Homo sapiens: one gene and its partner. The protein of the gene in region 1 purifies or fractionates together with the protein of each later gene. This does not show direct contact. Each region holds a gene or a part of one and is shown on either strand. Other genes may lie near its edges. The genes, in order: PPIL2 and KANSL2.

Region 1 (3,813 bases):
CCATACACTCCTAACCCTGAGGTGGCCAGTCCTGTGTGGTATTTTATCTCCAGGGTTTCACCTGATATCATAAGAGTCGGGATCCAGTGGAGGCCAGGGGACCCTGGCTTGGCCTAGCCTTGGCTTCTTCCTCCTGCTGGTTGGGGAGGCCCTCCTGGAGGAGAGGCACCAAGCAGGGCCTGGGGGGCAGGGGTGGCGTGTGGTTGGCTTCTAGGCAAGCGACACGTCCCCACCCAACTGCCTCCCATGGCACTGCTGAGGTGCCACCCTGGTTTCCTTGGCAGGCCCACTATTCCACAGGGAAGGTCAGCGCTTCCTTCACCTCCACCGCGATGGTCCCGGAGACCACACATGAAGCAGGTAGCCACCTTGGCCTCTGTAGCCACCTGCCATGTGACCCAAAAGTGGCAGGGGGTGGGTGTGCTCCCCGACTCCCACTTTATTGGTCTGTCAGGGGCTCCCACTGTCACCTGAGCCCCTAGTCCTCCCCCTCTTAGCTGCTGAACCCCTGCCAGCCCCATGAGGCTGGGGTGAGCCTGTGCGTGGCCTAAGCAGACCCTCGGCCTCCAGCTCCCCTGCTCTCCCCAGAGCTGGAGCCTAGTCCCCGCCTGTGTGTCTGAGGTCGGTGCTGCCTGGCATGGTGGGGCTGCCCCAGGGTGAGGGCAGGGGCTGAGCTGGGACCTTGGCTTGTAGCTGCCATCGACGAGGATGTGCTGCGCTACCAGTTTGTGAAGAAGAAGGGCTACGTGCGGCTGCACACCAACAAGGGCGACCTCAACCTGGAGCTGCACTGCGACCTGGTGGGTGTGGAGGCCAGCCACTCCCCATGCCCCAAGGTCATCTCTGGGTCATCTGACAGCCATGTCTTAAATATAGGGCTGCCACTGGTATGTGCTTGTTGTAGGAAATTCAGCCTGTCACTAGGCGGGACCCGCAGCAGTGCCCTGTGTCCTTCCTAGGGGGCCGCGTTGGCAGCATGGCCTGCGCACAGGTGCCAGTGTCTCAGAGAAGGGGCCAAGCCGCACCTGCTGCTCTGCCCACACTTCTCCCATGCGCTGTACTCTGGGCCGTGCGGCTGCACGGGTCCTGTTGCTTAATGTTGTGGGTCCATCCGTGCCCAGTGTGGCTGGGCAGCTGACTCTGCTACATGTTAAAGACCAGCCTGGCCAACATGGGGAAACCCGTCTCTACTAAAACTACAAAAATTAGCCAGGCATGGTGGCGCATGCCTGTAGTCCTGGCTACTCGGGAGGCTGAGGCAGGAGAATGTCTTGAACCTAGGAGGCGGAGGTTGCAGTGAGCCAAGATCGCGCCACAGCACTCCAGCCTGGGCAACAGCAAGACTCCACCTCAAAAAAAAAAAAAAAAAAAAAGCCTCCTGTGGCTGTGGTGAGCTGCCTTTGGCAGCTCTCTGCTTCATACAAGTATTGGGGCTATGTTGCAGACACCAAAAACCTGCGAAAACTTCATCAGGCTTTGCAAGAAGCATTATTACGATGGCACCATCTTCCACAGATCCATCCGGAACTTTGTGGTGAGTGACGAGAGTCACTGGCTGCACAGATGAGCTTGGTGGGACATCGGGGGCTGGGTGGGCTTGTCCCTGCCCCATCCCAGGGCCCTGGCCCATCCCACGGTGGCCAGGATGAGTCCAGTTGGTGATCCTCTGTTGGGGAACCCATAGACTGACCCTTGAGGCCCCAGCCCATCCAGAACTGGGTTCACAAAGGGAGGTGGCTGGGAGGGCCCCTCATTATCACCAAGAGCCCAGCCCCTGTGTGGAGCCATCTGGCAGGAGGGGTGTCCTTCAGTCAGGCAGGCGGTGGGCCTCGGGTCTCAGAGTGTGACTTGCTCACTGGCTTTTGTTTTCACAGATCCAAGGGGGCGACCCCACAGGCACAGGCACGGGTAGGTACTGGTGCTGGGCCCCTCTCTGGGCACTTTGGCTGCTCCGTGGGGCATGAGGGGGTAGCTGGGCAGGGGTTGTGCACAGCTCAGACATGGAATCTGCTAGACCAGGGTGGAACGACTGGCAGCCATCAGTGCTGTGCCCCCTCAGGCCTGGCCCTCAGTTTTCTCATTTCCAGGTGGCTGTGAGGCCTGCATGGTAGAGGAGGCAAGAGTGTGTGGTCTCTTCCCTGGGCCCCTGGGGTCTGCCTCAGACTGAGGCCAGCCCTCCCTCCTGCAGCCTCTCCAAGCCCCTCAGCCTGGCAGCTGCTTGGGTCCAGATCCCCCAACCTCTGTATTCCCATAGCTTGAGTGATGATGATGGTGGCCTTGACTCTTTAATCCCTGTCCCGGGGCAGGCCCCAGGCGGGGCTGGGGTGAGTGGGCAGCAGCCTGCCTGTTTGGAGGCGTGGGGGCTCCAAGGGACCCAGGAGTTGGTGGCGTGGGGCTGGGAGCCTCCCTATCAAGTGCCCCTGCCCCAGGCTGGGCTCAGCAAGGCCCTGATGCCCCTCGGGACTCTGAGGTTTCTAGTTCTGCCTCGGCTGGGGCCCAGGCTTTCCTGCTCCCATGGGCCTTTCTCTTCCAGGTGGGGAGTCATACTGGGGGAAGCCCTTCAAAGACGAGTTCCGGCCCAACCTCTCGCACACGGGCCGCGGCATCCTCAGCATGGCCAACTCCGGGCCCAACAGCAACAGGTCTCAATTGTGAGTCAGCTGGGCTTGCTGGGGTGGCCTGGGAGGTGAGCCGGCACTCTCTGCGGGTTCTTCCTCTTGGCCCTCTCTGAAGGGTGTGCTGGTTCTGAATCATACCCAGACGGTGTACGGCACACCTAGGCCAAGCATGTGCACCTGCGTTCAAAAGGGGGTCCCCAGAGTGAGTCAGCAGGGAGAGCTGCCCGCACCGGGTGTGTCCTCGAGAGACCAGAAGTCGGGAATTACTGGAGGTCCAGAAGGGCTTCTTGACAGGGACCAGGCATTCGTGTGGGTGCCTGTGGCCAGGCAGTGCTGGGGGAGGTCAGCGTGTGGGAGGGGTTGTGCAGGGCACAGGCTGCACAGGGAGAGGCGCCTGGAGAGACACAGGAGGTCTGGCCCTGGTGCATGTGGGGAGCAGTGTGCAGTCTGGTGGCAGGAGGCAGGGGATGGGGGGCCAGCAGGGCCATGCACACAGGGGCCGGATGCCTGTATTGTGGAAGAACAGAGGTGCCCTTTCCATCCCCAGACAGTGGCCTGATGTTATGTTTCAGTCTTTCAATCGTTTTCTTCACATGGGTCCTGTGACTTCCGGGATAAAGCAACCTCTTAAGGATTTTTTATAGTTTATGATACTTTTGTAAATGGACTTTTTTTTTCCCAACTTTTGGGGATCATTGCTCATGTAGAGAAAAACTACCGTTCATTTTATATCTAGCCACTTTAACAAATTATCTTATAATTCAAAAGTTTTTAAGATTTTTTTGGGTTTTCTAGATAGTCACGCTTATCACCAAAAGCTGGTCTGCTCTCTGCTTCCCTGGTGTGCACATCAGTCACGTCACCGTCACGTCACCGTGGGCCTGATGGGGGAGGAGGATGTGGGCATCTTGCTGTGCTCCACAGAAATCGCTGTTTTGCCTTCTCAGAACATTTGTTGTTGGGCTGTTTTTAGGAGGGTGGCTGACTTTTTAGAGGTTTCTTTGTTAGCATCTACTATGATGATTCTGTCCTTTTTCTGGTCCTCCCGGGATTTGTGGATGTGGCCACTACAAGGCCAGAGTGGATGGGTGTCTCCGTGGCATTCTGGGGTGAACCCTGGCCTGTCGTGGCTTCGCCGTGGCCTTCTGCCAGCTCACTGTCACACGTGGTCTCGGTTGTGTGGACTGGCTCCAGC
Region 2 (3,813 bases), on another chromosome or scaffold:
TGATGATTCCCATTAGATTCATATGTTTATTCATTTGATCATTCAATAAATATTTGTTTGCCTTGTACTATCTTCTGTTTCTTTAGAGTAGTGGTTTTCAACTGGGGGCCATTTTGTTTTCCAGTTGGCAATGTGTGGAGAAATTTTTGGTTGTTACAACTCAGATGGAGGTGCTACTGACAGCTAGTGGATAGAGGCCAGGAATGCTGCTATACATCCTTCTTCCAACAAAGATGTACCTGGCCTACAGTGTTGGTAGTGCCACAGTTGTCACACCCTGCTTGAGAGTTTAGTTATTTCCAAGTATGCATTGAAAGAAATAGCTTTATTCAAGGAAGTTCATATGGTTTTAAAAATTATAATGTATGTTAGTTTTTTTATTTAAAAAAATTACCATAAAAGTTTTGAGTTGAAAATTATAACTCCATAATTCAGGTACTATCAGTTTAAGAAAAATTGTGTTTTCTGGTTAAAAATAAGTCAAATTTTAAAATAATGTTTATTAATCTAGGAAGATAACCAGGTAGTTAACAGATTTCAAGAAATGGTAGCACTTGCATAAAATGTGTTTTGTAAAGTAACTTGAATTTTATTGTATCTAATCATCTCAATTTTGGTTCATCCTACAGAGCTTCTTTGCTAACTTGGAAATATAGCCCTTTTCTTCTTCTACCTTTAACAAAAGTTGTTAATAGAGTCCTTGGAATGTTTCTAGAATACTTTTTTTTTTCAATGGGCCTTCATACACAAAATTTTCTTCTTCCTTTAGGATCATAAAAGGATTCCTCTGTACTAGCACACTCCCCTAAAAAAAAAAGGCATGTATATTTAATTTCTTGTTAGGATATGATACCTAGTGACTTTTACTAGAGCTCTGTTTCCCCCTATTCCAGTGGTGCTTTAAATGAATTTATCATGTAATCATCTTTGGAAACGAGGTCCAAGAAATTGTTGCAAACTTTGCCAGTCTGCTAAGGGAGCAGAGACATTGTATCGCTTGACTCTTTTGGAAGGGCTGTTTAGGGGCATTTTCAAGGCTATTTGCATTTGCCACTACATGTTTCTTCTGAATATGTGTGTGTTCCTAGGAGTGTTACTGCTACTTGCTTAAGGGAGAATGGGATGGTGTCTAGTTTAAATGACCAGGATCCTGAAAAGGAGGTTGGGGACAAGTTTTAAATTACTGGTAGAGCTAGAATTTGATGCTAGTAAATGACATTTATTTTGAGAAGTAACTTTAAAAATTGCTAACTGCATTTGGTATTCTGTATCAAATGTAGTTGTAATTTATCTTATATAGTCCACACCTTGAGTTTTATGTGGCAGACAATGCTATTTGTATTTTATGCTTTCGATAGATTGTGTTTTATTTCCCTTGACCATTTTTCTACAGATATTTGTCAGGATACGAATCAGGTTCTCTTCAAGTGCTGCCAGGGATCTGAAGAGGTACCCTGCAACAAACCTGTTCCTGTAAGCCTCTCTGAGGATCCCTGCTGCCCACTGCATTTCCAGTTGCCTCCTCAGATGTATAAGCCCGAGCAGGTACTGTCTGTGCCAGACGATCTGGAAGCCGGCCCCATGGATCTGTACTTGAGTGCTGCTGAGCTTCAGCCCACTGAGAGTTTACCTCTGGAGTTCAGTGATGTAAGTTAGAGAAGCTCTGCTTTGGTTCAGGCCCTTGAGACAAAGCCTTATTTATTAATGGTGAGAATAGGTTAGTCTTTGTGGTTAGGAGAATCGACAAAGTTTTTGAAGTGATATATACGTATAGTTGTATTTATATGTTAGCATATTCATTTAGAGAAATCTACCCTACCTTATATTTTTTTCCAGACTCTTCCCATACCTTTTTAGGGATACAATTTACATACTATAAATTGCACTCTTTGAAAGTGTATAATTGAGTGATTTTTAGTATATTCGCAAAGTTACGCAACTACCACCACTATCTAATTTCAGAAGGTTTTCACCATCTCCAAAAGAAACTCAGTACCTATTATGACACTCTTCATTTTCTTCTCCCCTCAGCCCCTGGCCACGATGAATCTACTTTTTGTCTCTGATTTTGCTTATTCTGGACATTTCATATCAATGTAATAGTATATGTATCCTTTTGTGTCTTGCTTGTTTCACTTAGCATAATGTTTTCAAGGTTTATCCATACTATAATATGTATCAATACTTCATTCCTTTTTGTGACTGAATTAATATTCCATTGTTTGGAAATACCACGCTTTAAAAATATATCAGTTGATGGATATTTGTGCTGTTTCTACTTTCTGGCTATTAAGGAATATACTGTTAAGAACTTTTGAGACAGAGTTTCTGTCGGTGGCATGAGCCACCACGCCCAGCTTAGTTATCATTTTTATAACTTTTTTTTTTTTAAATTGGGGTCTTGCTCTGTTGCTCAGGCTGGAGTGCAGTGGCATGATCATGGCTCCGTGCAGCCTCGAACTCCTGGGCTTAAGTGATCCTCCTGTCTCAGCCTCCCAAGTAGCTGGGACTATAGGTTTATGCCACCATGCCCAGCCAATTTTTTATTTTTTGTATAGATGAGATCTCCCTATGTTGCATGGGCTGGTCTTCAACTCCTAGGCTCAAGTGATCCTCTTACCTTGGCCTCAAGTGATCCTCTTACCTTGGCCTCCCAAAGTGCTGGGATTACAAGTGTGAACCACTGTGCCTGGCCACTATAACTTGGCTTTTTTTTTTTTAGACTGAGTCTTGTTCTGTTGTTCAAGCTGGAGTGCAGTGATGTGATCTCAGCTCACTGCAGCCTCTGCCTTCAGGGTTCAAGTGATTCTTGTGCTTCACCCTCCTGGGTAGCTGGGACTACAGGTGTGCGCCAGCAGGCCTTGCTGATTTTTGTATTTTTTGTAGAGACAGGGTTTCACCATGTTGGCCAGGCTGGTCTCTAACTCCTGGCCTCAAGTGACCCACCCACCTTGGCCTCCCAAAGTGCTGGGATTATAGGCATGATTCACCATTCCTGGCGTATAACTGTTAATGATAACTTTGGTGATTTTACTTGCGGGAAGACTAGGCATCAGATATTAATATGAGTAAAAACACAGCCGTTCATTCTGGATATTTGCTTGTTTTCTGTGCTTTGATGCAAGGATGGTTGGCAAGTAGTAACTTAACACCTTAATCTTACTACTTTTGAGTTCCTTCTCTCTCATTCTCTATTGCTGGTTTTGGAGATAGTAACAAAACGTGGATTCTCTTATTTTATCTTTATTTATTTTTTGAGACGGAGTCTTGGTCTGTCGCCCAGACTGGAGTGCAGTGGCACGATCTCGGCTCACTGCAACCTTCACCATCTGGGTTCAAGCAATTCTCCTGTTCCTGCCTCCCGAGTAGCTGGGATTACAGGTGTGTGCCACCATGTCTGGCTAATTTTTGTATTTTTTAGTAGAGATGGGGTTTCGCCATGTTGGCCAGGCTGGTCTCGATCTCCTAACCTCAGGTGATCCACTCCCCTCAGCTTCCCCAAAGTGCTGAGATTATAGACATGAGACATCGCGCCCAGCTGAAAACATGGATTCTCTTTATATCCTGATACTTCAATTTTTAAAACACTCCTGTTTTAATAGGCATTTTTGCTGATTTTCTTATTTTAGGATCCTTTTCCCAGTTTAAAATCTTATAAAAGACAACCCTTTGTATATATGAGAAAAGCCTTTTCTGAAAACATACACATTCCATTATTATCTTGAGATTTAGATGCCTTTTGATTCAGTGTTTAAATAATTCCAAGCTAGTCATTATTATTTTTGACAGAGTCTCGCTCTGTCACCTAGGCTG

The links.
Region 2: the proteins of PPIL2 (region 1) and KANSL2 purify together in Homo sapiens (affinity purification with mass spectrometry; one large-scale study listed by BioGRID and IntAct). This does not show direct contact.

Annotation. Positions count from the first base shown.
Region 1 is NC_000022.11:21,686,199-21,690,011, forward strand, and holds part of PPIL2 (RING-type E3 ubiquitin-protein ligase PPIL2), read left to right. Parts: intron 1-284; coding exon 285-360; intron 361-693; coding exon 694-800; intron 801-1,444; coding exon 1,445-1,534; intron 1,535-1,874; coding exon 1,875-1,908; intron 1,909-2,533; coding exon 2,534-2,651; intron 2,652-3,813. UniProt on the Homo sapiens protein: Has a ubiquitin-protein ligase activity acting as an E3 ubiquitin protein ligase or as an ubiquitin-ubiquitin ligase promoting elongation of ubiquitin chains on substrates.
Region 2 is NC_000012.12:48,658,200-48,662,012, reverse strand, and holds part of KANSL2 (KAT8 regulatory NSL complex subunit 2), read left to right. Parts: intron 1-1,393; coding exon 1,394-1,647; intron 1,648-3,813. UniProt on the Homo sapiens protein: Non-catalytic component of the NSL histone acetyltransferase complex, a multiprotein complex that mediates histone H4 acetylation at 'Lys-5'- and 'Lys-8' (H4K5ac and H4K8ac) at transcription start sites and promotes transcription initiation.